Regions from separate parts of the Homo sapiens genome. Here regions 1, 2, 3 and 4 are each linked to region 5. Evidence: fine-mapped expression QTL. A gene starts in region 5. Each other region holds a variant in brackets. All regions are shown on one strand. Distances are between the middles of the regions.

Region 1 (5,100 bases), 29 kb before region 5:
CCCTGCTGTTTCAGACACAGACCTGCCAGTTTTAGGTGGGGCTTCTCCAAGGAGCTCAGTAGAATGTTCTGTGGCTTCAGATCCAGGTGAGAGATATTCCGTTCATGCAGGAATTGCAGGGCGCTAGCTGAGGAGCAGGACCCACGAAGAGAGACAGTTCAGAGCCCATTCCCGCCTGCCTCTCGCCTCCCCGGCTCACATCTGCCTCCTCAAGCCTGCACAACCCCAGTTCCTGCCTGGCTGGTCTAATGTTTTCCATATAAGCACCAAGATCACACCACTTCTAGGAGTTTGCCACCCCACCCGAGTGCCCACCCTCCTTCCCTCTGCCCCTTCACAAGTCTCCCCACCTCTCAGAAGCTTCTCTGGATGCCCCAGCCCTTGAGATCCTGCTCTTTTCCTTGGCACAGCACTTGAGTCCTACCTACAGGACTCTGGAATGTTCTACAAGGTCCTTATATTATGTTCTATGTATGGAAGCCTGAACACCCCACAGAGGGGTTACCCCCTCATCTCTCCCACAGCGTCCTTGAGCAAGGGTTGAGTGTATGAGATAAACAGGACCATAAAATTTCAGGCTGTGCAGGAGGCAGCTGCAATGCGTGCCAAGGCTCTAAGCCTGGGGGAGGGGTGGGATGGTGGGGGGCAGAGAACAAGGGACAGAGTGTCAGGCTGGTGTCACAGGCCTTTACCTAATTGCTGCATGAAGACACGCGCCACCTTCTCAGGCAGAATCCTGCGGGTATGGATGAAGCGAGACAGGTCGCCCCCTGCGCAAAACTCCATGATGAGGTAGATATTGTCACTGTCCCACTGTGTTTAGAGGCAGAGAGGCGGCCTGAAGAGAGTGTCCCTTCTCCAGCTCCCTTTGGCAGCGGCCCCGCCCCAGGCTCACACCTGAAAGTCTTTCAGCTGCACAATGTGGGGATGTCGAATGCCCTTGAGGATCTCAATCTCCGTGAGGAGGTTCTCCACCGATGCCTTGTTCAGACTTTTCTTGGCTACACACTTTATGGCTACCACTTCACGAGTGTCCTTCTGCGAGACAGGAGATTTGGGGACTCTGCCTTGAGGGGGCCAGGACCCTTGTCTGACTGGAAAGGCTCTATCTGGTTCCCTCTGTTCCCCCACCCCGCCCCTCCCCGGGTCTACCTACTGCACACCAGCACCGGGCTTCCCAGCTTTCCCTTGTGAGGCCAGTGAGGAATGCTGATTCTGGAATCCTGGCTTCCCGACACAGCCTCAGCCTGGTCTTCTCCAACCCTCGGCTAGCTGATCCATTTCTTTGCATTCTGGAGTGCTCCCGGCAGAGGCATGTCACTCAGGGTTCTAGAACCGCCCACTCTGCCTCCCAACTGGCTCCAGTCCCAGACTCCTCCCAGCCCACCAGGTAACCTGTTTTGAGCCTGTTCTTCAGCCACTGACCCTGCAGGTGGGTGCAGGTGCGCTCTTTAAGACCTAAGCGTGGCAGTCGGCTCCAACCTCCGCCGAGGGTCAGCTGGGGCGAGGCCGGCCTCCCGCCCCTAACTATTCCCACACTGTCGCTAACCTCTCAGAGTCTCCCCGGCCGGCACCAGCCGAGCTAGCTCGGGCGGGCACGGGGCCATCGGCCGGCACCCACCTTGGCGTAGGCCTTGTACACCGTGGCGTACGTGCCGCTGCCCAGGCGCTCGGTGAGGATGAAGCCGTCCAGGCGCGGGGGACCCCAGCCGGGCCCCGCCATTCCGGCCGCCTGCGCCCGCGCGGGCGCTTCCTCGCTGCGGGCGGCGGTTCCGGCGGGTTGCGGGGCGGGCCGAGCACTGGGTGGCTCCACGCTGCCCCCAGCGCCGCCCGCCGGAAATGCAGCGCGCATCGGGGACGCGGATCCGCCCGGCTCCCGGCGCCCCTCCCCTGTCTCTGGGCCTCGCCGGGTCACGCGCCCCGCCAGTTCCTGCAGGGCCCACGTGGGGATACGGAGGCCCCGCGAGCCTAGAAGTTAACAACGGAGGACGGCCGGCGTGGTCTCCGGGGACTCCTAGCGGGCGCAGAGGCGTCTAGAGATCGCCCACGTGAGGGCGCGGGCGGCGGAGCGGGCGTGTGTGGGGGCGACGGCGTCCGGGAGGCTCCCAGGGCCCCTCCCCAGGACCCGCAGCTCTGAAAGGAGAGCTACTGGCACGAGAAGGCGCCTTTGGAAGAGGCCGCGTTGGCTTCCCAGGCCTCCCAGCTGCTTTTCACTTTTCTGAGGAAGGGCCTTGACCTATTTATTGCATCTTAACTGTCCCCGCTCTCCAATCTTAGCAGCGGCGCCCAGCCCCTAATCCTGTGGGCTGCCCCGTCCTCCCAAGTCCACCAGACATGTGGACCCGTGTTGTCTGAAAATGTTTTTATTTTTACTTAAGCACAAAAATTGAGACGTAACATATACATTTGTACATAGAGGGGAAAAAATACCAGAAAGGAGTTCATAAAACCCCAGCCGCTGCCAGTATCATTCAGTGGCTGGGGCCTGCGGCTGTCTCGGGCCCAGAGCCGGAGGCTAGTTTTGTGGGAAGGCACCCCAGTCCACACACCCACTCGGCAGCCTCGAGGGACAGGGTGCTGGTTTTAAGGGTGGACTCCTACGTGTCCCATCACAGTGACACACCCCCCAGGGTGTGAACCAGACTCCACTGGGTATTAGGGGGCCCTCCGAGAGATGGCTTATCAGTCCCTGCTGAGGGATGCGGTTCTGGACTGGCTGG[C/T]CCTGCCCTTCCTGAAAGTCTGGATGCTGCTGATGGGGAGCATGGGCGGGGCAGGTGGCATCTGAGGCAGAGACAAAGGCAGCCGTCCCTCGGTTCGGGGAGGGGGGGGGGTAGTCACAGCAAACAGGGCCAAACCAACCACACCAGGACAGGCAGACCCCACCCTCCTAGAAGACGCTGGACGCTAGGCAGGACAGCTTGGGGTCAGTGTCCTTGGTCCCTTCCAGTCCCCAAATCCCAACCAACGGCATTGTACATTCAGAAAGTCTGAAGAGAGTAAGGCTCAGCAAGGGGAGGGCTCCAGAGGGCTCAAAGTGCCATCCCCTGCAGGAGGGTGCAGGGGGATAAAGGGCTATTAATCCGTTTCTCAGGAACACGAGGCAGGGAAGAGCTTAAGGCAACCAGCCTTCTCTGGATCCGTTTATGAGGCAGAGAAGAGCTTGAGGCAACCAGCCTTCTCTGGAAGCCTGGAGACCACTGGAGTGACCTGGGGAACAGATCTGTCCACCAGAACCTGTGAGAGGCTTATTCCCAGCCCAGGCAGGAAGGACTGGGCTGTGTCTAAGAAGCCAGATTCAGGCCAGGCCTGCAGGGTGGGGGAGTCAAGGCCCAGGACCCTGGCAGAAAGCTCCAGCTGGGATGGGCCCAGGTCAGCCTGTGATCCCAACTGTGTGGGGGTGTCTGTGTGTGCACAGGACGAAGAGAACTTCAGTCCCACTGCTTCCAGAGACAAAAGAATCCTACCAAACCATCACCAGAGAAGGAAAGAGAGCTTTGTTTTTTTTTGTACATAGAGGGGGAAAAAATTCCCTGTCCCTCCCGTTCCAGGGAGAGCTGGTCGCTGAGGGAGGAGGAAGAGCCACGGCAAGAACCCTGCCAGGTCTGTGCTGGGCACAACCACCACCACATAAGGCACCCACGGAAAGTGCAGCTCAGAAGGCAGGCGAGAGAAAGGCTGAGGGGGAGAGAAGAGAGGAGGACTAATTCCCCTGGAAGGCTCCTTGGGCAGCAGATGAAGCAGCTCTGTGGAAGGTTCTGCTGCTGAAGATGCCCTGGGAAAACTCCTCCTGGGCCTGCTGGAAGCTGGCCCCTGTCCGTCGGTAGAGGGAGTGCACCTGGCGAAGAGGGGTGGGGTGAGAGAAGCCTGTCCTTTGGGCCCACCAGGAAGCCAGCCATCCAGGTTATACTCCCAAAGGGGTCACCAGAAGCCTGGCACTGCCTGACCCCCCACCCAGATCCCTGGAGAAAGGTACTGGACCTTTGGGGGCCTAGGATGCCCAACTGCAGTGGTGAAAAACATCTCGTGGCAAGGGCAGGAAACGGTTGCCTGCCTCCTCCCATTTGCTGTCAGCCCTGCCCACACCACTCACCCGCTGCAGGAGGAAGACTGAGAGCACGGCACAGAGGGTGAAGAAGCCAGCCACCACCATCATGATGACTGATATGGCCAGGGAATGATTATCCAGTGTAGACAGGGCTGCAATCCAACCGCTATAAAGGGAAGAAGAGGCCAGAGGGAGCAAAGTGGGAGTGGGCTCCAAAAGTCAGCATAAGGGGCTCTTCTCCAAGTGGCTGCTGTGTCCTGACCATCACCTTGGCATCTCCCCACAGCACAGGGAGCCCTGTGAGCCAGAAGCCCTTGGCCTGTGAGGCCAGACCTCCGTGAAGGCTGACAGGCCCACACTACCCCATTCACAAGGGGAATCTTCTGGTTATGTGAGGTCTGAAAGGGAGGATGTGGTTGCTGCCTTCACAGAGTCAGAAGTAGCACCGGGCTGGGTGCTATGGCTCTCACCTGTAATCCCAGCACTTTGGGAGGCTGAGGCAGGAGGATCGCTTGAGCCCAAGAGTTCAAGACCAACCTGGGCAACAGAGGGAGGCCCTGTCTCCATAAAAAATAAAAAAAGGCCAGGTTCGTGCCTGTAATCCCAGCACTTTGGGAGGCCAAGGAAGGCAGATCACTTGAGGTCAGGAGTTTGAGACCAGCCTGGCCAACATGGAGAAACCTTGCTCTACTAAAAATACAAAAATTAGCTGCGCGTGGTTGCACACGCCTGCAATCCCAGCTACTCGGGAGACTGAGGCAGGAGAATCACTTGAACCTGGAAGGTGCAGGCTGCAGTGAGCCGAGATCATGCCATTGTACTCCAGCCTAGGTGACAGGGCGAGACTCCAACTCAAAAAAAAAAAAAATTAGCTGGCTGTGGTCATACATGCCTATGCTCCCAGCTACTTGGGATGCTGAGGTAGGAGGATCACTTGAGCCCGTGAGGTTCAAGGCTGCAGTGAGCTGTGATCACGCCACGGCACTCCAGCCTGAGCAACAGAGTGAGACCCTGTCTCCAAAAAAAAAAAAAAAAGAAAAGAAAAAAGAAAAAGG
Region 2 (5,100 bases), 31 kb after region 5:
GTCTTGAAGGTCAAGCCTGCAAACCATCTTAGAGCTAGGAAGAATAGAGCAAACGGAATTTCTCGAACTGGTCTCAAACAGTTTCTTTTTTGGATTGCCAGCTATAATAAACCATAAAGTGCTATTTTCTGCCTCCATTCAACACTATCTAGCACAGCCTGGGCACAAGAGCTCCCTTTTTGCCTCCCTGAAGCACTATGACAAATACCAATCAAGCTGTCTGCAAGTGTTTTCCTTAGCCACCTTTGTCACCCACCATAAGAACCAGAATTTTCTGTCTTGCCCTTATTAAAGTGACTTCTCCAAACTCTGCTCCAACAGCAGAGGAAAACTACAGAATTCTACCTATCAGCCCACAGCCCAGATGGGGGCCTCTGGCCTGAGAAGCAACAGGTAAGGGCTACCTGCAGGTCACTTTCTAGGGGTCAGTGACTTCAGTGCTCACTGCACTGTGTGAGCTATGAGTGGCCAACAGGGCTCTGTAGGCCTCATGGTGAGCAGGGCCCACCTTGGAGGGTAATGTCTACTGGAGGGTACAGGAAGAAGAGTCCCCAAGACAGCACCAGCAGCAGGAGCATGTTGAAGAGGCCATGGGCTTAGGGGGGATGAGGTCCAAGTCCTCGTCATCTGGAATCTCATCCAGGTGATACCCATCCTGAAGCAGCTGCCGGCTCACATCCTGGTTCACCTGCTAAGAGAAGGAGAGGAGGGAACTATAGGCCAAGATGCAAAGCAGAAGTAACTGCTACCCAAAAGACAGAACCACATTCCGTTACCAGGGCTTCCTGTCCATGTCCCACCCCAGGCCAACCCCACACATCCCTGGACTACAGGAGGAAGTACCACCTTCTCCTACTTGTGCCTCAGCCAGCAGTAAGCCTTAGTACTGTCCAGACTTCACTGTCACTGACCCCCAGGGATCTGTTCTCACTAAATCCTGAGGCATTCATGTAAATATCGAGTTCCCAATATGTTTGAAAATCAGTGCTCTGACAGTTCCCACTGGGAGCCCAGACTAGTCCCTATCAAAGCTGAAGAATATGGGATAATAACAGAACAATGGGCTAGCGTAGTAGAGCATGGGTTACAGTGGAAGGGGGTGGTGAGCAGCTTTGTCTACACACTGCTGGTTAGACTTATCCTTTGATGCCAACAGAGGTGGGTTCCTGCAAAGTGGAATTTGTTGGTTGGTTTCATCAGTTCACTGAACATAAGAAAAATAAGGCTGGGCGTGGTGGCTCACGCCTGTAATCTCAGCATTTTGGGAGGCCGAGGCAGGTGGATCACGAGGTCAGGAGATCGAGACCATCCTGGCTAACATGGTGAAACCCCATCTCTACTAAAAAATAGAAAAAATTAGCCAGGCGTGACGGCGGGCGCCTGTAGTCCCAGCTACTCGGGAGGCTGAGGCAGGAGAATGGCGTGAACCTGGGAGGCGGAGCTTCCAGTGAGCTGAGATCATGCCACTGCACTCCAGCCTGGGCCACAGAGTGAGACTCTGTCTCAAAAAAAAAAAAAAAAAAAAAAAAGAAAAAGAAAAATAAATGAGGCTGGGGAAAGTGTAAGACTTCCTCTTACACACAATCTTTGACACTCAGACATTTAAGGAGGACAAAATTTGCAAACTGCTCTATTCTCTGTGACAGAAACTCAGAGATTAGCCAAGATTTCCAGGAGAGTAAGAAAAGCAAGTGGTGTAGAGTCAGGTCCCCAGCACTTCACCTCTGTCAAAGGGAATGGGCTTCACTTGCCAGGATTTTACATCCCTGTTTTTCTATCTGGGACAGTCACTCTAGAAAAATGTCTACATGGCTATCCCAGGAGTGTTTTAGCCTGAGTTTTCATAGATGGAACAACTGAAGAAACAGAAGTTGTTTGGTCTGGAAGAAAGCAAGCTTGGTGAAAGATGGGCAGGGGAGAGACGGAAATGCTGATCTCAGAGAAACTAGAGTTGCTGTGTGACACTGGAAAGCAGGTCAAGGACCAATGGACCCATTCAGATTAATAAGGAAGATTTCTCTAACAGCTACTCAAAGAAAAAATTCTGTGTGTGTTGAGGGAAGGGTGGGTAGCAAGGCTCCTTGGAGGTGGTCAGTACCCAATTACAAAAAGCATTCAAGTAAGCACAGACTAGCAAACACTTAGCTGGGATCTA[T/C]CAAAAGGGTTCCTTTTGTAAGCTGTGGCCTAGAAGACTTTTATTTTAGAGTCTTATTTTAGAGACAGGGTCTTGCTATATTGTCCAGGCTGGTCTTGGAACTCCTGGGCTCAAGCAATCCTCCTGCCTCAGCCTCCCTAGTAGCTGGGACTACAGGCATGTACCACCATGCCCAGCTTACATGACTTCTGAGATCATTTCTAGCCCTGAGTCTAAATGGTCTCCTCGATTCTCAACAGCCCTCCTTGGTCACCTATACCTCCACCGGGGGAAGAGGGCAGAGTGGAAGATCGTAGAACAGACCAGAAGTCTGGCACAGTGCTGTGCTCACAGCGGGCACCAAACAAGCATTTGGCAGTGGTGGTAATGCTGCCTGCAGCCTGGCCCTGCACAGAAAGGTGTTCTGGACTTGCCTCTGCAGATGAATACCCGGAGGAGTATCTGGATCCCAGCTCCCCATCACTAGGAGAAGAGGAAAACAGTCAGTTCCGGGAGGTACCTGTGGTGCACAGCTGTAAATCATCAGGCGGAGAGCATGCAAGGGCATCTGGAAGACTTTTGAAGCAAAGGCCACACACAACAGAACTCAAGTCCGAACAGGCCTTGAATAATACTGGTTCCCTCAATTGGTTCTGGCAGGGACAGGGTCACTCTCACTAACAATGCAAACATAACAGGGCAGGATGATCCCCCGGACATTGGTGCTCCGAATTCTAGAGCAGCACGATTACCTATGAGTCTTCTAACCAAGCCATCCTGGGAAGGGATATTGTTCAGAAGAGAACGGCCCTGGAATGTACATGAAGGGCCTTGGAGGAGACAGGGAACAAGCAAAGGCATCAGGCGATCTTCAGTCCCAGCCAAGTTGCTTCCCAAGGGGGTATTTCCAAGGGGAGCACTCACCTGTCAGAGTCGAGGGACACCAGGTTTTCATCTGGACTCTGGCTAAGAGCAGTATAGCCCTTGTTAAACTTCACTGACCTGAGGGGAGACGGGGGAGAAGAGACCAAACATAGATGAAAGCATAGGCATTTCACAGGGATAGGCAGAGTCCTCGCCCTGAAGGAGAAAGAATTGACTGCACTACTGACTTGCCTTCTCCCTGGTCACAGCCACCACTGCCTGCAGCTCCATGTACCTGGCTACAGTGCCTCAGAATGTGTATGTTCTCATTCTTTTTTTCTTTTTTTGGAGACAGAGTCTGGCCCTGTCACCCAGGCTGCAGTGCAGTGGCGCGATCTCGGCTCACTGCAATCTCCGCCTACCATGCTCAAGTGATTTTCCTGCCTCAGCCTCTTGAGTAGCTGGGACTACAGGCGTGCCCAGCTAATTTTGTATTTTTAATAGAGACGGGCTTTCACCATGTTGGCCAGGCTGGTCTCGAACTCCTGACTTCAAGTGATCCACCCGCCTCGGCTTCCCAAAGTGCTGGAATTACAGTCGTGAGCCACCACGCCCGGCCTGTATTCTACTCCTCCCATAGGTCTTGGAAAAAAGCACACCTCCCCTTGCCTGATCTAGGAAAAGCACCCTCTCCCCACTTATTTAATCAGAGGACACAAAAACTGCAAGTCTTTGGGTAAAAGGTTAGGGTTAACCTTCACTTCTCCGAGTTTCAACCCTCATCTGTAAAAGGAGGCACTGAATAAGGTTCTATGCAGCTCCGAGTTTACTATTCTGTTAAAAACAAACAAACAAAAACAGGTCTAGCCATTCCCACACTGCTCTTCGTCCTCATTGCTGGGGACTCCAGCCACCATTCTCCTCCCTAACAGAGGAGGAGAATGATAGTGAATGAGCCTGTGCACTCACAGAACTCCCTTATTCCGAAGCCCTTTATCTGATCCTATCACATCCTTAAAGGAAAAGAGAGATTGTTCCTCTTCCCATTTTAAAGATAGTGAACCTGACAGGTTGCATCAGGGGAATCGCTAGCTCGGCCTTAAACCAGAGCACCCTGCCTCCGTCCTGGGGATTAAAGCCTTCTCTAAAGCTGCTGGCACAGAGGAGGTGGCGCCTGCTGAGACCTTTTCCCTGAAGAGTCTGGGCGGTTCGGCGAGGCCCCCAGCATGCCTTTTCTCCGCAGAACGGCCTTGGCCAGGTCCCGGTGCTTCTCTGGAAGTTAAAGGACCCGGGTCAGCCGGGTCTTCCCCACTCCGCCGCGTCTCCCGAAGGCTGGGAGGCCGCTCTTTCCGAACGGATTTTGAGGGGCGAGAGCAGGCTGCAGCTAACCCCTTCCCTCCGGGGCCGAGGCCCAGCGGAGCTCCGGAACCCGCCCTGGGGACGCGGCCGCCCGCCCAGGGAGAAACCTCCCCCGACCATCGGGCCACACTCACGCAGCTTGGCTTGAATGGAGGGTGCGCGCGTCACCATGTATGGCCCCCGCTTTTCCACGGCCGCGGGGGTGCGCTCCCCCAGACGGAGGGCTCTATTACCGATCTGCCCGGAGGGTGGCCCCGCAGCTCCCGGCGCGCGGTCCCGAGCCCCGCTGGGCCGGGGTCCCGGGGTAGACAACCGCAACGCGCGCCCGCTGGGCTCCGCGGTCGCCATGGCCGGGCCCCGCCCTGCCGGATGGTGCAACCCCGCCCGTGGCGAAAGAGTGACCGGCCGAGGGAGAGGCGGGCTCTTTTAACAAGATGGCGGTGCGCAGGCGCAGGTAGTCCCCTTTCGGAGCTCTCCGGTTCGGTAGTCTGAGGACTTGGCCGAAATGTTCCGCCCTTCTTTTCGGGGGGACCGGGCAGTTCCGTTCTCGGTTTTGGGGTAGGCGGCTTGAGCCTGGTGATGGTTAGGCTTAGTTCTGTCTCTAGTGGAAATTAAATACTGATACTGTCGTGGGGCTGCGCGTGTGCGTCGGTCGGGTGCCCACGGTTTGAGTCCTGGCGCGCCGCACTCTGTGCTTCTCGCAGTGTCTCCTTGGGGGTCTCCCCACATGTGGGGCTGCCAGA
Region 3 (5,100 bases), 190 kb after region 5:
GGTTGGGGGGTGGCAGGTGTCGCAGAGCAGGAGCAGACAGCTGAAATAAAGGTAGACAGTGTGAGAGAGCTAGTGTGAGTAAACCCCTGATAAAAGAACTAATGTCTATAGTACACAAAGGGAGTCACTGGGGACCCCAGGCTCTGTGTAATGCAATACTTAGTGAGGCAGCCTTGTTGGCTGGGGTGGATGCCAGGATTCTTGGTCTTGCAGCTGGGGAGATTGGGGTTGCACAGGTGGAGTGGGTTTGGAGTAGGAATTTCGTGGCCGTGGGAGGGACCAGCTCTGCATTGAAGGGGGGGTCCTGAGCCGGTTGCCAAGTTGCAATAAAAATGTCAGAGTTTTCATAAATGGGCTAGTGAGGAGGGGGCTAGTGAGGAGGGGATGTCTTATCCTCCTAGGGCCCAATGATTTGGTTGTGACCAGATGTGCTATCTGTTTAGAGCAGAGTTTCTATCAGCCTTTACCTAATTGTGTCACTTATCTGGGAGGGAGAGTATCTGTGTCTGTTCCAGGTATCTTGCAGCTTCAGGCACCCACCCCCACACCCCAGTCCACTTTTAGCTTCCCTATCTTAGTGTGCCTAAAGGGAAAGGAATGTGCTTATTAAGGCCCACTGTTTTTACTGGGGCCCATTGTATGAGAGTGAAGTTTGGTGATTACCCAGGAGACTTCCCCCGAATCTCGATCCCCCCCAACCCCCCTCCTTCTGTGCTTGAGCTCTTTATCTGTGATTTACAGGCTGAGCTTTCAGGCGCCATTTGTTAGAAGAGAAGTAATTTCTTTGAACTGCATGAGGTTAGAAAGGGAGCTATTTCTGAGCTGCTTTTTAATAGAAGGAAAGTTTTCTGCCAGGGACTCACTTTACCTTGTCTACCTAAATTTCTTTCTGCCTCCTATAACATTAGGAATTATGGGTGTATAGGGACTTATACCCTCACTAAACAAGTATGTGGAAATTGTGTAACTTGTCAAAGGATAAACCAAAAGGTAATTAGAAAACAGGCCACAGGAGGAAGACCTCCTGGACTAAGACCATTTCAAAGCATTCAAGTATATTTTACAAAAATGCTCAAAGTAGAAAGACGAAAGTATTTACTGGTGATCGTAGATCACCTTTCCAGCTGGGTGGAAGCCTTTTGCCTCCCAACAGCCACCACCAGGTATATGGTCAAAATTATATTAGAACAGATTGCACCTAGCTTTGGCCTGGTGAAAAATATTGATTCAGACAATGAGAGCCACTTTACCTCAAAGGTGTTAAGGGGAATTATGGAAGGTTTACAAATTAGATGGGATTATCACACCCCTTGGCATCCCCCTTCCTCTAGAAAGGTAGAAAGAATGAATCAAACTCTCAAAAAGCATTTCACCAAACTAATCTTAGAAACTAAAATGCTTGGACCAAATGTCTCCCAATAGCACTCTGCAGGATTAGGACAGCTCCAATAAAAGACTTGGGATTGTTCCCTTACAAGTTATTATATGGGCTCCTGTATTTAGGCAGAGCTACAGATCTCCCTACTATGGAAACCAAGGATCAATTCTTAAGAAATTATATACTGGCCATATCCTCCACCCTGTCATCCCTTAGGTTAAAAAGACTTCTAACTCAAACTCCACCTCTTAAGTTTGTGGTTCACCACTTCCAGCCTGGTGACTTCATGCTGATTAAGACTTGGAAATAAGACAAGCTCCACCCAAGCTGGGAAGGTCCCTATCAAGTGCTCCTGACCACTGAGATGGCCCTGCAAACAGCTGAATGGAGGTGGACTCACTATATTCGAGTCAAGGGACTGGTAAAAGAGATCCCGGAAGGGAGGGAAAAAGATCAGTGGAAAGTGCCCGAGTCTAACTTTAACTCTTAACTTTAAGGAACCCTTAAAGTGAACTCTAAGAAAAATCTAAAAAGAAAACATGAGCTGGCCCCATTTCTGGAAATTAACATGGCTGGGATGGGCTAATATACAAAGAGCAGAAGGTCAAA[A/G]TGGAAACTGGCAGCAGACTCTTCTCTACCCAGTCAGGTTGGTGATTAATGTGACCAAGACAGTAGCACCCCAGACTATAAGATTTAATGCCTGCCAGGTTTTACCTTGTGGAAATTTAAAAAATCAGAGACAGATCTCACAGGCAGATAAATATCTTTGCCCTAAACCAAATACAGGTTACAGTAGGGCATCACCCTACCCCAGCTGGGATAATATATGGTGGACTACCCAATTTCAGGGCTGGACAGTAAACATGGGGTGGGTAACTCCAAGCTGGAGACCCCTAAAGAATAAACTACATCTGTCCAAGAGCTCCCTGCCAAATAACTGCCAGAATTTTTTTCTTTTTTTTTGAGACAGAGTCTCCCTTTGTCGCCCAGGCTGGAGTGCAGTGGCTGATCTCGGCTCACTGCAAGCTCTGCCCCTCAGGTTCATGCCATTCTCCTGCCTCAGCCTCCTGAGTAGCTGGGACTACAGGCGTCTGCCACCATGCCCGGCTAATTTTTTGTATTTTTTAGTAGAGATGGGGTTTCACCGTGTTAGCCAGGATGGGCTAGATCTCCTGAACTCATGATCCGCCCGCCTCAGCCTCCCAAAGTGCTGGGATTACAGGTGTGAGCTGCTGTGCCCGGCCCCAAAGCACACTCTCTTGACACTGCATCCTCTCGCTCAGCCTGGGGAGGATGGAGTGGTGTAGCAGTCGAGGGCTTTGCATAACCAGATCAACAAGGATGCCTCATTTACAGGTCCACTCAGTCCATCTTTACTGTATGTATATGTGCTCTGTGCTAGGCACTGTGCCCAGTGCTGCGGACACAGTGGGGAAAAGAATCCACATGCTCCCTGCCCTCAGGGTCCTTTCTGAGATAGCTGCCCACAGGTAAGGAAGAGTAGACACCCTGATAAGCACCATGGAGGAAAAGTACGGGGTACTGAGAGGGGATAACCTTGGAGCCTAATTTAGGCAAGGGCAGGGGTTTTCAGGAAAGACTTCCTGGAGGAGGTAAGTGGAAGCAAGATGAGTGACCAGGAGTTCGCCAGGGGAAGATGAACCAGGGCATTTCAGACCCAGGCTATTACATGTGCAAATGTGGGAAGGGGAAGAGCTGGCTGGGGCACATAAAAGTTTTGTGAGTGGGGCAGAGTGCAGTGGGTGAAGGAGGGCAGATTGAGTAGGGGCCCAGTGAGGCAGGGACTGGGTGGGGATCATGGAGAGGCTCTGGGAAGCCAAGGTGGTACTTGGGAAACAAGAACTCCCTCTTTTTCCCATCAGGTAAATGATAACCACACACTGCATGTAGCCTCCTTAGCTAATAGCTTGGGCTGCATTAATAGTGGTATAGCATGCAGGTCAAAGGAGGTGATTTTTCCTCCTTCTGGCTCAGACTGCATCTGAAGGATTGTGGTCCTTTTGGGGCCCCTGCTGCCCAACATCTGCAGGAGAAGAGCCAGCATGCTGAAGGCTTTGCAAAAGCCAGGCTGGATGAGCAGGGAAGAGCAGCCTCAGGGGACAAGAGTCTATCCTAGAACTCTGAGAAATGACCTGGAGGCAAAGTTCAGCCCCAGAGAAGGAAAATGTCCTGGCACCTAGAGCTTATGGAAATGGAGGGAGTGACTGAGGGAGTGAGCCTCCTGCTCTGGGGAAGTTTGAGGAGACACTGGAGGACTAGAGGTGTGAAGAGGGCCCCTGCTTAGCTTCATGGGTGGCCTAGAATCAGTCCTTGCCATTGCTCGAGCATCTACTGTGTGCTCCCTCCCTTCCACCTTCGTGCTGGAGACTCACCACACATGTCCCCCAAACACAGGATTTTGGACCTCACAAATGGTGGGGCTGACCCAGGCTAGTCTGGGGCGGACTCAGGTCTTTTTTCTGCTCAGACTGCTTTGGGGGAAACCAGGGATTGGGAATAGTGGTGGTCTCAGGCCCATGGGCTGGCTGCTGCTAGTCACCCTCTGAAGTTATCTCCCGGGGCCTGCCTTTCAGAGTCCTGAGTGTGTTCTGGTGCTCTGAACCCTCCAACTGTCAGCCATACCGTCCTCACCTATTCGAAACTTGAGAAGTCAACACATCCCTCTTCCACTTCCCCTTCAACTGTGTGCAGACTGGGACTTCCCAGTCGTCTCTGGGTGTTCCCCAAACAGAAGGCTGCCCTGGCTCTCATACCCCAGACCTCTCACTCTTGGCTGCCTCTGTCTCTGATGTTATGTTAGTCCCCAGGCCCTCACCTTCTTTCTTGGTAATGGCTCCAACTCATTCCCATGGCTCTTTCCCACTGCCATCACCGGGCCTCCAGAGCTGGCTTCCCTGGAGGTCCTGCCACCTACCTTCCACTCCCCGCTTGGCCTGTCTACTCTCTGCTGAGTTCTGAGACCAGGGCCAGTTACAGTTTTTTAAAAAAATTGAAGTATAACACATATGGTAAAGTGCACACATCTTAAGTGTACAGCGTGATGGATTTTTTTTTCTTTTTGAGACAGGGTCTGTCTCTGTCACCCAGGCTGGAGTGTAGTGGTGCAATCACTGCTCGCTGCAACCCAGCCTTGACCTCCTGGGCTCAGGTGATCGTCCCATCTCAGCCTCCTGAGTAGCTAGGATACAAGATTGTGCCGCCATGCCCAGTTAATTTTTGTAGAGATGGGGTTTTGTCATGTTACCTGGGCTGGTCTCGAACTTCTGGGCTCAAGAGATCTGCCCACCTCAGCCTCCCAAAGTGCTGGAGTTACAGGTGAGAGCCACCACACCTGGCTGGCCTGCATGATGGATTTTTAGAGGTGCACACACCTGTGAACCACCACCCAGATCAAGCTCGAGAACTTTTTCAGGCCCATTCTCCCAAAAAGCTCTGTCCTCTAGGCTCCCACAGCTTTACTGTGGGATACTTGGCAGATAATTGCCTTACATTCCAACTAGCTAGAGGGCCGGGACCCCTCCTGTTTGCTGTTTTTGTTTCACCCTGCCAACCTAGCATGGTGCAGTGCTCGTAGGAAGTGCCCCTGAGGCCCATTAGATGGAGGGGTTTAGAGTTCATTCACAGTGTTCCAGAATCTGTGCCCAGTTGTCCCTCAGAAATGTGGGAGAGGTGACAGAGATGGAGGATGAGGTCACCAGAGC
Region 4 (5,100 bases), 60 kb after region 5:
CGTGCCTGTAGTCCCAGCAACTCGGGAGGATGAAGCAGGGGAATTGCTTGAACCCAGGAGGCGGAGGTTGCAGTGAGCCAAGATTGTGCCACTGCACTCCAGCCTGGCGACAGAGCGAGACTCCGCCTCAAAAAAAAAAAAAAAGACAATAAACAACAACAACAAAAAAAACCAAAAAAGCAACAAAAAAAAAAAACTAAGAGCAATACTAATGTCCATTCAAGTTCTTTTTTTTGAGACAGGCTCTCGCTCTGTTGTTGCCTAGGCTGGAGTGTAGTGGCGCAATCACAGCTCACTGCAGCCTCAAATTCTTTGGGCTCAAGCATTCCTTCCTCCCTTGGCTCCCAAAGTGCTGGGATTACAGGTGTGAGCCACCAGCCCTGGCACCATTCAAGTTCTTAAATAAACTTATATACTTCATTCACACATTAAAAAAAAAAAAATCTCGGGCCGGGCTTGGTGGCTCACGCCTGTAATCCCAGCACTTTGGGAGGCCGAGATGGGCAGATCACCAGGTCAGGATATCGAAACCATCCTGGCTAACACGGTGAAACCCCGTCTCTACTAAAAATACAAAAAATTAGCCAGGTGTGGTGGCGGGCGCCTGTGGTCCCACCTAGTTGGGAGGCTGAGGCAGGAGAATGGCGTGAACCCAGGAGGCGGAGCTTGCAGTGAGCAGAGATCACGCCACTGCACTCCAGCCTGGGCAACAGAGCGAGACTCTGTCTCAAAAAAAAAAAAAAAAAAAAAAAAAAAAAATTCTCATGTTATTATATTCCAAAATAAATTACACATCCTGACAAATTACACATACAAATTGCTTTATCAAACTACAGCCCCTTCCCAAAATATTCTGATAAATCCCCTAAGGGAACGTACACTCTAATCTACACCTAATGCAAAATAATACTGTTTTACTAGGAATATTTTGGGCTGGGCGCAGTGGCTCACACCTGTAATGCCAGCACTTTGGGAGGCTGAGACTGGTGGATCACCTGAGTTCAGGAGTTTGTGACCAGCCTGATCAACATTGTGAAACTCCGTCTCTACTAAAAATACAAAAATTAGCTGGGCGTGATGACGGGCGCCTGTAATCTCAGCTACGCGAGAGACTGAGGCAGGAGAATCACTCGAACCCAGGAGGCGGAGGTTGAGGTGAGGTGAGATGATGCCATTGTACTCCAGCCTGGGCGACACAGCAAGACTCTGTCTCAAAGAAAAAAAGAAATGATGTTTACATAGAGTACTGTATGAAAAGCATTTCCATTTTTTTTTTTTTTTTTTGAGATCGAGTCTCACTCTGTCACCCAGGCTGAAATGCAGTGGAACAATCTCAGCTCACTGCAACCTCTGCCTCCTGGATTCAAGTGATTCTCCTGCCTCAGCCTTCTGAGTAGCTGAGACTACAGGCGAGCGCCACTAAGCTTGGCTAAGTTTTGTATTTTGAGTAGAGACGGGATTTCACCACATTGCCCAGGCTGGTCTCGAACTCCTGACCTCCAGTGATCTGCCCACCTCAGCCTCCCAAAGTGCTGGGATTACAGACGCGAGCCACTGCACCCAGCCCCATTTTTTCTTTCTTCTTGTCAAATGGACACTGAATTGAGTTTGGAAATCTGAATTCCTTCTGAACAGCCTCTGGAACAGGTAGGGGGATAGGCGGAGGCAGAAAATTTTATCTTTGGGTATTGAATGCAGCACAACCTAGCACTCAGATACCTCTAGGCTCTTCGCTCTCTCTGTTTGACCCTGGAAAATTAACTTAAGTTTATTTTCCTTATCTGTAAAATGGGGACGCTACCCCCCTTAGCAGATTATGAAGATTAAATGTGAAAACAGGTAGGTTAACACTATGCACTGGTAAGTATTAAACAAATGGTAGCTATAAACTAACCCTTATCTAAAAACGTCTTAGTTGTCTATTTATAGAAATCATAACTTAAAGAAATGAAACCTATCTCAAATCACATTTCCTACTACCTGTATTAGATAAGTGTGGTGTAACTTCCAGTTGTTTAAGGCTTAACATATTTTTATTTATTTACTTTTAGAGATGGGGGTCTTGATATGTTGCCCAGGGTGGTCTTAAACTCCTAGCCTCAAGCAATCCTACCACTCCCAAAATACTAGAATTACAGGTGTGAGCCACCATGCCCAGCCTTAACATACATATATATATATTTTTAAAAACTTCACCCAGAAACCTCTCAACATTGTTGTTCTAAGAACACTGAAATTTAAACATTAGTAATATCCTATATATCTTTAATGCAGTAACTGGCAGGAGGAAGAGTAGCAAAAAAACGAAGCAGAAAAGATCTTCCCAGAGACCTAAATTACCTACATAATCCAAGCCCAGAATGAAGTGGAACATGTACATAAATGGACTAGAAGTGAACACGTTTTAATTTCTTTTTTTTTTTTTTTGAGACAGAGTCTCACCCTGTCGCCCAGGCTGGAGTGCAATGGCACGATTTCGGCTCACTGCAACCTCCACCTCCCGGGTTCAAGTGATTCTCCTGCCTTAGCCTCCCAAGTAGCTGGGATTACAGGCATG[C/T]GCCACCATGTCAGGCTAATTTTTTGTATCTTTAGTAGACACAAAGTTTCACCATGTTAGTCAGGCTGGTCTCGAACTCTTGACCTCATGATCTGCCTGCCTCGGCCTCCCAAAGTGCTGGGATAACAGGCATGAGCCACGGTGCCCAGCCTTAATTTCTACAACAAGAAAAAAATGGATCTCTACACCTAAATATGTCTGGTAAGTATGAACATTTAATCAAAACTACGTGGATATTTAATAAGTCTTACAAGACTAATATTCAAATTTAATATATCAGAAAACAAGGCCAGGTGCGGTGGCTCACACCTGTAATCCCAGCACTTTGGGAGGCTGAGGCAGGCAGATCACTTGAGGCCAGGAGTTCAAGACCAGCCTGGCCAACATGGTGAAACCCTGTCTCTACTAAAATACAAAAAATTAGCCAGGCGTGGTGGCACACCCCTGTAGTCCCAGCTACTTGGAATGCTGAAGGAGGAGAATAGCTTGAACCCAGGGAGGTTGCAGTGAGCCAAGATCGTGCCACTGCATTCCAGCCTGGGCGACAGAGCAAGACTCCGTCTCAAAAAAAAAAATATCTATCTATCTATCTATCTATCTATCTATCTATCTATCTATCTATGTAAAAACATAGATTAGAACAACCATCTAATGCACTATTATCAAGAACTTAGGGCCAGATGCAGTGGCACTAGCCTCGGAGACAGAGTGAGACCCTGTCTCAAAAAAGAAAAAATTATAAGCCACCTCTTCAAAAACTAAAGCTAGCCTTAACTGAATACTGAAAGTGCAAGTATAAAATGATACAATCACTTTGGAAGACGGTTTAAGCAGTTTCTTATCAAGTTAAACACAAACCTACCATATAACACAGTAATTCCACTCCTAAGTATTTACCCAATGAAAGGTCTATGTACTCCTTCCCCAGAGGTAATTACCTGTCCCATCCACAACAGTGCTTCATGATAAGCAATTCGTTTTGTTCACTGCTGGGCATGGATTTGACTACATGAGTGCTAGGCTTTGTTTCCTAACTGTGAATAAGATGACCACCAACAGCAAATCCAAGTCAAGGAGATCACCACCTTCAAGGATTTGATCATATGTCTTCTGGAAGCCAAATTACAAACTGGTTGTATTCCAAAAAGTCTTTTATAAAACAGAACTAGAACTTTGAGAGGCCAAGGCAGGATCGCTTGATGCCAGGACTGAGAGACCAGCTTGGGCAACAAAGACAGACCTCCATTCTCCACAAAAAACTTAAAAAATTAGCGGGGTTTGGTGGTCCCAGCTACTCAGGAGGCTGAGGCGGGAGGATCCCTTGAGCCCAGGGCAACAAGGCTGCAGTGAGCTATGACTGCGCCACTGCACTCTAGCCTAGGTGATAGAGCAACACTCTATATCAAACAAATTAAAATAAATAAAAATTTAAAAACCCATACATCCCTTTCTGAAGGGCTAAAACAGACTCTCCCCACGTGATTTAAATTTTTTTTTTTTTTTTGAGATGGAGTCTCACTCTGTCGCCCAGGCGGGAGTGCAGTGGCGCAATCTCAGCTCACTGCAAGCTCCGCCTCCCAGGTTCACGCCATTCTCCTATCTCAGCCTTCCCAGCAGCTGGGACTACAGGCACTCGCCACCACGCCCGGCTAATTTTTTTGTATTTTTAGTAGAGACGGGGTTTCACCGCGTTAGCCAGGATGGTCTCGATCTCCTGACATTGTGATCCGCCCGCCTCAGCCTACCAAAGTGCTGGGATTACAGGCGTGAGCCACCATGCCCGGCCATGATTTAAATTATATTGTTAAATCCAATAATGGGTAAAGCAGGATCTATTCTATTAGCTATGGACACATCCCCCACATGCTTAACTTTTTTTAGGTAAACTCTACTAGCATTCTCTGCCCCACACACCCCACCCCACTTAAGAACAGGATCTCCACCTAGTATTGAAGCTTGAAAGGCAAATTATTTTGGAAAACAATTACTCAGAGCTTTTACGTAACCTGAAAGTCCCAAAGTAAGAAAAAAGAAGCAGCTGTGAAAAATGAGGACATTTTTAGGGCTTCATCCTAAAAAGCTATTTCTAACACTGCTTTTTGGCATTCAGTTAAGCACTCCATTTAAAAACAAAAAAGGCTAACATATATAGAAAAATAAAAGGGCTCATTGATCCTTTGGGTTTAAATTTAGTTAAATCGGATAGTTTTCCATTTAATAAATAATCAACCCTGACAGGCCCAAAGAATGAACACTTTGGTGGTGGTAACTGTAGGAATGAGGGCACATTAACGAGTTACTGAGGCTGGGTGCAGTGGCTCTCGCTTGTAATCCCAGCACTTTGGGAGGCTGAGGTGGAAGGATGGCTTGAGCCCAGGAGGTTAAGGCTGCAGTGAGCTGTGCCAACTGCACTGCAGCCTGCATGACAGAGCGAGACCCTGTCTCAAAAACAAAAACAAAAACAAAACAAAACCACAACAACAGAAGAAGAAAAAGAAAAATTTGGCTGGGCATGGTGGCTCACACCTGTAATCCCAGCACTT
Region 5 (5,100 bases):
AACAAGCTATCAGAATTTGCCCTGAGGGCTCCTGTTGGCTAAGACACCTTGAGACCAAGAAAGAAGCAAAACATTTTCACTCTCCTGACAGCGTATAATTATTTAGTTCAAGTCTCCTTTGATTTTGCTCTGACCCTTGAAGCGATTCAAAGTGGGAAAACTCATGCTGTGAATGACAGGAAGGACTCCTTCAAGGACTTCTCTGACACCTGCAGGAAACTTAAAAGCTGCCAATGACCAAAATAAAGGACAAGCAGGGTGAGTTAATGTGCCTGGTGACATCCTGACAGAGCAGAATATCAGGGCTCATAATTCACCAGTCAGCACAAACAAGCTTCCCTAGAACGGGTTTTGAGCAGACGTGAAACAAGAGGCATAGGAGCTCTGGAGGTAACAGTTCAGCCCCTCATGGTGGAAAAAGATCATCCCTGTGCTCTCAGCTGAAAGGCAGAAAGGTGTGGGCTTTAAGTAGGAAGACTGTCCTGTGGCTCATGCCTGTAATCATAGCACTTTGAGAGGCTGGGGCCAGAGGATTGCTTGAGACCAGGATTTCGAGACCAGCTTGGGCATCACAGCGAGACCCCTTCTCTACAAAAATTTTTTTTAAAAGGAGTCAGGCCCAGTGGCACATTCTTGTAGTCCCAGCTACTCAGGAGACTGAGGTGGGATTCAAATAATCATTTGAATCCTGGAGGTCAAGGCTGCCATGACCTCCACTGTGCTACAGCCTGGGCGACAGAGTGAGACCCTGCCTTAAAAAAGGAAGAAAGAGGGCTGGGCGCAGTGGTTCATGCCTGTAATCCCAGCACTTTGGGAGGCCGAGGCAGGTGGATCACCTGAGGTCGGGAGTTCGAGACCAGCCTGACCAACGTGGAGAAACCCCGTCTCTACTAAAAATACAAAATTAGCCGGTCGTGGTGGTGCATGCCTGTAATCCTAGCTACTCAGGAGGCTGAGGAAGGAGAATTGCTTGAACCCAGGAGGCTGAGGTTGCAGTGAGCCGAGATCGCGCCACTGCACTCCAGCCTGGGCAACAAGAGCAAAACTCTGTCTCAAAAAAAAGAGGCCAGGTGTGGTGGCTCACCCCTGTAATCCCAGCACTTTGGGAGGCTAAGGTGGGTGGATCACTTCAGGCCAGGAGTTTGAGACCAGTCTGGCCAATAAGGTGAAACCCCGTCTCTACTAAAAATACAAAAATTAGCCGGGTGTGGTGGTGCACACCTGTAATCCCAGTTTCTCGGGAGGCTGAAGCACGAGAATCACTTGAACCCAGGAGGCTGAGGCTGCAGTGAGCCGAGATCGCGCTACTGCACTCCAGCCTGGGCGACAGAGCAAGAATTGTCTCAAAAAACAAAACAAAACAAAACAAAAAAAAAGGAAAAGAAAGAAAGCAGGAAGATTGTTTCTTCCTTGATTGCTGTTCAAAAGGTCAGGCCAGGCGTGGTGGCTCACACCTGTAATCCCAGCACTTTGGAAGGCCGAGGCGGATGGATCACCTGAGGTCAGGAGTTTGAGACCAGCCTGGCCAACACGGTGAAACCCCGTCTCTACTAAAAGTATGAAAATTAGCTGGGTGTGGTGGCATACGCCTGTAGTCCCAGCTACTCAGGAGGCTGAAGCAGGAGAATTGCTTGAACTCGGGAGGCAGAGGTTGCAGTGAGCGGAAATCGTGCCAATGCACTCCAGCCTGGGCGACAAAGCGAGACTCCGTCTCAAAAAAAAAAAAAAAAGTCAGGCCAGCTCACACGTCAGTGCATCTCAACTATGTTGCCACCACACACAGTTCCATCAGACAAACGTTCCCTGTGGGTCCAGAATTTTTCACAGTCCCCCGCACCTCTCCTCTCTCCCTAACCCGGGCTCTCCTATCTGGTCAAAACCCACTCCAAACTAGACCCATGGCCAAAATGTGGAATTCTTATCAAGGCCATTTTTCAACTTGGGCTACCTTCCCGCCCTCTCCCATCTTTCTTTCCCTGACAAATCTCAGGGGCTCTCCTGTACTTTATACACTAGTTTGGCTGGTGGTGGAGCGGTGGCAGGTGTCCTGGGCTTTTCCCACATTTTTCCCCTCCACCAGAGGCTTCACCACCTCCTCATATGTTGCTGTCACCCCCTCTTCTAAAGTGACTCAAGACAGGTGTCTATCCAAGAATGAGGGAATGCGATAGCCACATTTCGCTTCTCCCTGACGCTAGGAGACTTCCGGAAGGGTCCGACCGTACCTGCTCCAGTCCCCTTCCCTAGCACAGCCCAGCCTCCGGGTGCTAGAAGACCCCACTGTCTCCAACACTTCAGCGCCCCGCCTCCTCTGCAGTTCCACCTGCTGCTAGTCGCGCCCCTCACGCGTTACGATAGGCCAGACCTCAAAGCCCGCTCTCCCATTGGGCAGATGACCCGTCCCTCCTACGCCACGTCTCCCGGCTCTAGCGAGAGGCCCGGGCGGCGGCCGTGGGCCCTAGGGAAATCTGAGAGCTGGATGGCGGGAGAGGGGCTCTACCTGGAAGGGGTTTACATCCACTGGGTCCGCGAAGGGGTTGGTGTCGAAAGCCGACATGGTGATCGGGGGCCAGCGGGCGAACTCCGCGAACGCTGCTGCCTCCGGGCACCCAGACCCAGCGGCGCTTCGTGTAGACCCTCCACTTCCGGGAGCGAGGCAGCGGTTCTGGCGCAGGCGCGATGCCCTCCCCCGAGGGCGTGGCCCTATGACGGCACCGGGGTCGCTCCGCCCCCCCCCCCCCCCCCCCCGCCCAGCCCACAATAGTGCGGTGGGTGGGCATTCGGCTTCCGTCCACATCTTCGCTCTGCTGGGGATTCAGGGGTCTTGGCTGCGCGGAGCGTCTACGGAGCCAGAGGCGTGGCCGGAGTCCTTCCCAACTGCCTATCAATCTGACACCTTCCAATTTTATGTTTCTAAAGCAAACTCTCAAAAGTGGGACAGGAAACAGCCCCTTCACTTCTCTGTAGACCAAGTTTGGGAAGAAGTCCAAACTGATCCCTGGGCAAAGGACAGGGGTGACAGGTGAGGCCAGAGGCCTTGGGAGAACTAGGAAAGCGCTTCTTCTGCAGAACGTGCTCGGGGAAAGAGAAGTGCCAGGACCATCCAGCAGTCCTCCACCCGAGCTGAGCCTGCTTCTTCTAGGGCTGCTCGCCCTCTGATGTCGTTTCATCGTTTTAGGGACGAGGGTTCCTGGGCCCATCAGCTTTGGGACCTGAGTTGGGACTTGAACCTGGACATCAAACATTTATGAAGTGACTCACGGAATTCAGCAACACAGCCTCAATCATGGGGGAGGTGGCTGCTTCACTCTCCACAGCTCCGCTTTCCCCCGCCCCCGCCCCCCACAGGGTCTCACTGTCGCCCAGGCTGGAGTGCAGTGGTGCAATCATGGCTCACTGCAGCCTCGAGCTCCTGGGCTCAAGCAATCCTCCCACCTCAGCCTCCTGAGTAGCTGGGACTACAGCTGGTCACCACCATACCCAGCTAATTTATGGATTTTTTGTAGAGATGGGGATCTCACTATATTGCCCAGGCTCGTCTCAAACACCTGGGCTGAAGTGATCCTCCCGCCTTGGCTTCCTAAAATGCTAGGATTATACTCATGAACCACTGTCTGGCCAAATCCACCTTATTTATTTGGATCTGTCTGGTATTATTCATCTCTGCTGTCACCGAATCCCAGCCACTGTCATTTTTACCCTGAACTAATACAGTGCTGTTAATTGGTCTATTGTTCTTCATGTTGTAATCAAAGATATGTTTAAAGGGGGCAAAATTATCACAGAACTTTGTTAAAATTTTTCAATTAATTTCCATAAAGGGCTGGGTGCGTGGCTTATGCCTGTAATCCCAGTACTTTGGGAGGCAGAGGTAGGAGGATCACTTGAAGCCAGGAGTTCGAGACCAGCCTAGGCAACATACCAGGACCCTGGCTCTACAAAAAAAAAAAAAAAAAAAAAAAAATATATATATATATATATATATATATATATATACATATACATATCTCACACACACACGTAATTAGCTAGGCATGGTGGCCTGTGCCTGTACTCCCAGCTACTTGGGAGGCTGAGGCAGGAGGACTGTTTGAGCTCAGGAGGTCAAAGCTGCAGTGAGCCATCTTTGCACCACTACACTCCAGCTGAGTGACAGAGTGAGACCCTGTCTCAGTTAAAAAAAAAAAAAAAAAAATCAGGCCAGGCAAGGTGGCTCATGCCTGTAGTCGCAGCACTTTGGGAAGCCAAGGCAGGCAGATCACCTGAGGTCAAGAGTTCGAGACCAGCCTGGCCAATATGGTGAAACCTCATCTCTACTAAAAATACAAAATTAGCTGGGTGTGGTGGTGCACACCTGTAATCCCAGCTACTTGGGAGGCTGAGGCAGGAGAATCGTTTGAACCTGGGAGGCGGAGGTTGCAGTGAGCTAAGATTGCAACATTGCACTCCAGCCTGGGCAAAAAGAGTGAAACTCTGTCTCAAAAAAAAAAAAAAAAAATCATAAAGGCCCAAATTCTTAGTTTGTCTTCAAGGTCCTAAAGGATCTGCCCCTACGTTTCTCCCCTTCTGACCCCTTCTAGCCCCCAACCCCCACCCACTGTTCCAGCCATGCAAGTTCTTTTCAGTTGCTCAAACCTTCCTTGTGCCCTCCTGTCTCAGGGCCTTTACACATGTGTTCCTTCTACCTGGTATGCACTTAACCCATGCCCCACTATCATCCTCTGGTTAACCTCTCCTTACCCTTTAAATGCAAGTTCAGATGCCTTTCTTCAGGAGTAGCTTCCCTTCACTCTCTTGGTTACATCATCACCTCATACCCAACATAAGCTCTCCTATTGCCCTGTACTTTTCCTTCACAATACCCATTGCAGATTGTAATTAATACTAGTATAGGTGGTTCTTTATGCCTGTATCCTCCGCTAGACTGAAAGCTCCATGAGGGTAGGGCTGAGGTCTGTTTTGCTCACTGTTGTGTTTCTGTCACTAACATAGTATAAAGCACATGATACACATTTATTAATTTATTTTTTGTGGGTTTGGGGTTTTTTTTTTTTCCAGACAAAGTCTCACTCTGTCACCCAGGGTGGAGTACAGTGGCAT

The links.
Region 1: its variant is fine-mapped to the expression of SCAMP2 in whole blood (TOPMed, PIP above 0.99). The same link has a PIP of 0.9 or more in blood mononuclear cells and lung.
Region 2: its variant is fine-mapped to the expression of SCAMP2 in whole blood (INTERVAL, PIP above 0.99). The same link has a PIP of 0.9 or more in testis.
Region 3: its variant is fine-mapped to the expression of SCAMP2 in whole blood (INTERVAL, PIP above 0.99).
Region 4: its variant is fine-mapped to the expression of SCAMP2 in unexposed skin (GTEx, PIP 0.94).

What each region holds. Positions count from the first base shown.
Region 1 is chr15:74,841,383-74,846,482 of GRCh38, forward strand. ULK3 (unc-51 like kinase 3) reads right to left here and starts at 1,774. Exons shown (of 16, transcript NM_001099436.4): 1 at 1,622-1,774; 2 at 898-1,038; 3 at 693-813; 4 at 23-127. The coding sequence starts at 1,723. SCAMP2 (secretory carrier membrane protein 2) reads right to left here. Exons shown (of 9, transcript NM_005697.5): 8 at 4,091-4,211; 9 at 2,348-3,835. The coding sequence ends at 3,701. RefSeq lists enhancers at 768-1,293, 1,362-2,273 and a silencer at 1,536-2,255. The variant C/T (reference allele first, on the strand shown) is at 2,721.
Region 2 is chr15:74,902,096-74,907,195 of GRCh38, forward strand. It overlaps MPI (mannose phosphate isomerase), which reads left to right. Exons shown (of 8, transcript NM_002435.3): 8 at 1-124. FAM219B (family with sequence similarity 219 member B) reads right to left here and starts at 4,756. Exons shown (of 5, transcript NM_020447.5): 1 at 4,492-4,756; 2 at 4,183-4,270; 3 at 3,059-3,136; 4 at 2,569-2,617; 5 at 1-691. The coding sequence starts at 4,705. The coding sequence ends at 524. RefSeq lists enhancers at 3,366-4,172, 4,173-4,977, 4,819-5,098 and a silencer at 4,459-4,758. The variant T/C (reference allele first, on the strand shown) is at 2,156.
Region 3 is chr15:75,065,621-75,070,720 of GRCh38, forward strand. No RefSeq gene overlaps it. Among named protein-coding and RNA genes, the nearest start is that of PPCDC, 45 kb to the left of the region's middle. RefSeq lists enhancers at 3,769-3,878, 3,939-4,198, 4,209-4,298, 4,379-4,478. The variant A/G (reference allele first, on the strand shown) is at 1,988.
Region 4 is chr15:74,930,288-74,935,387 of GRCh38, forward strand. The region is part of intron 1 of COX5A (cytochrome c oxidase subunit 5A); the gene reads right to left. Among named protein-coding and RNA genes, the nearest start is that of COX5A, 5.2 kb to the right of the region's middle. The variant C/T (reference allele first, on the strand shown) is at 2,558.
Region 5 is chr15:74,870,699-74,875,798 of GRCh38, forward strand. SCAMP2 (secretory carrier membrane protein 2) reads right to left here and starts at 2,667. Exons shown (of 9, transcript NM_005697.5): 1 at 2,501-2,667. The coding sequence starts at 2,557. RefSeq lists an enhancer at 1-850.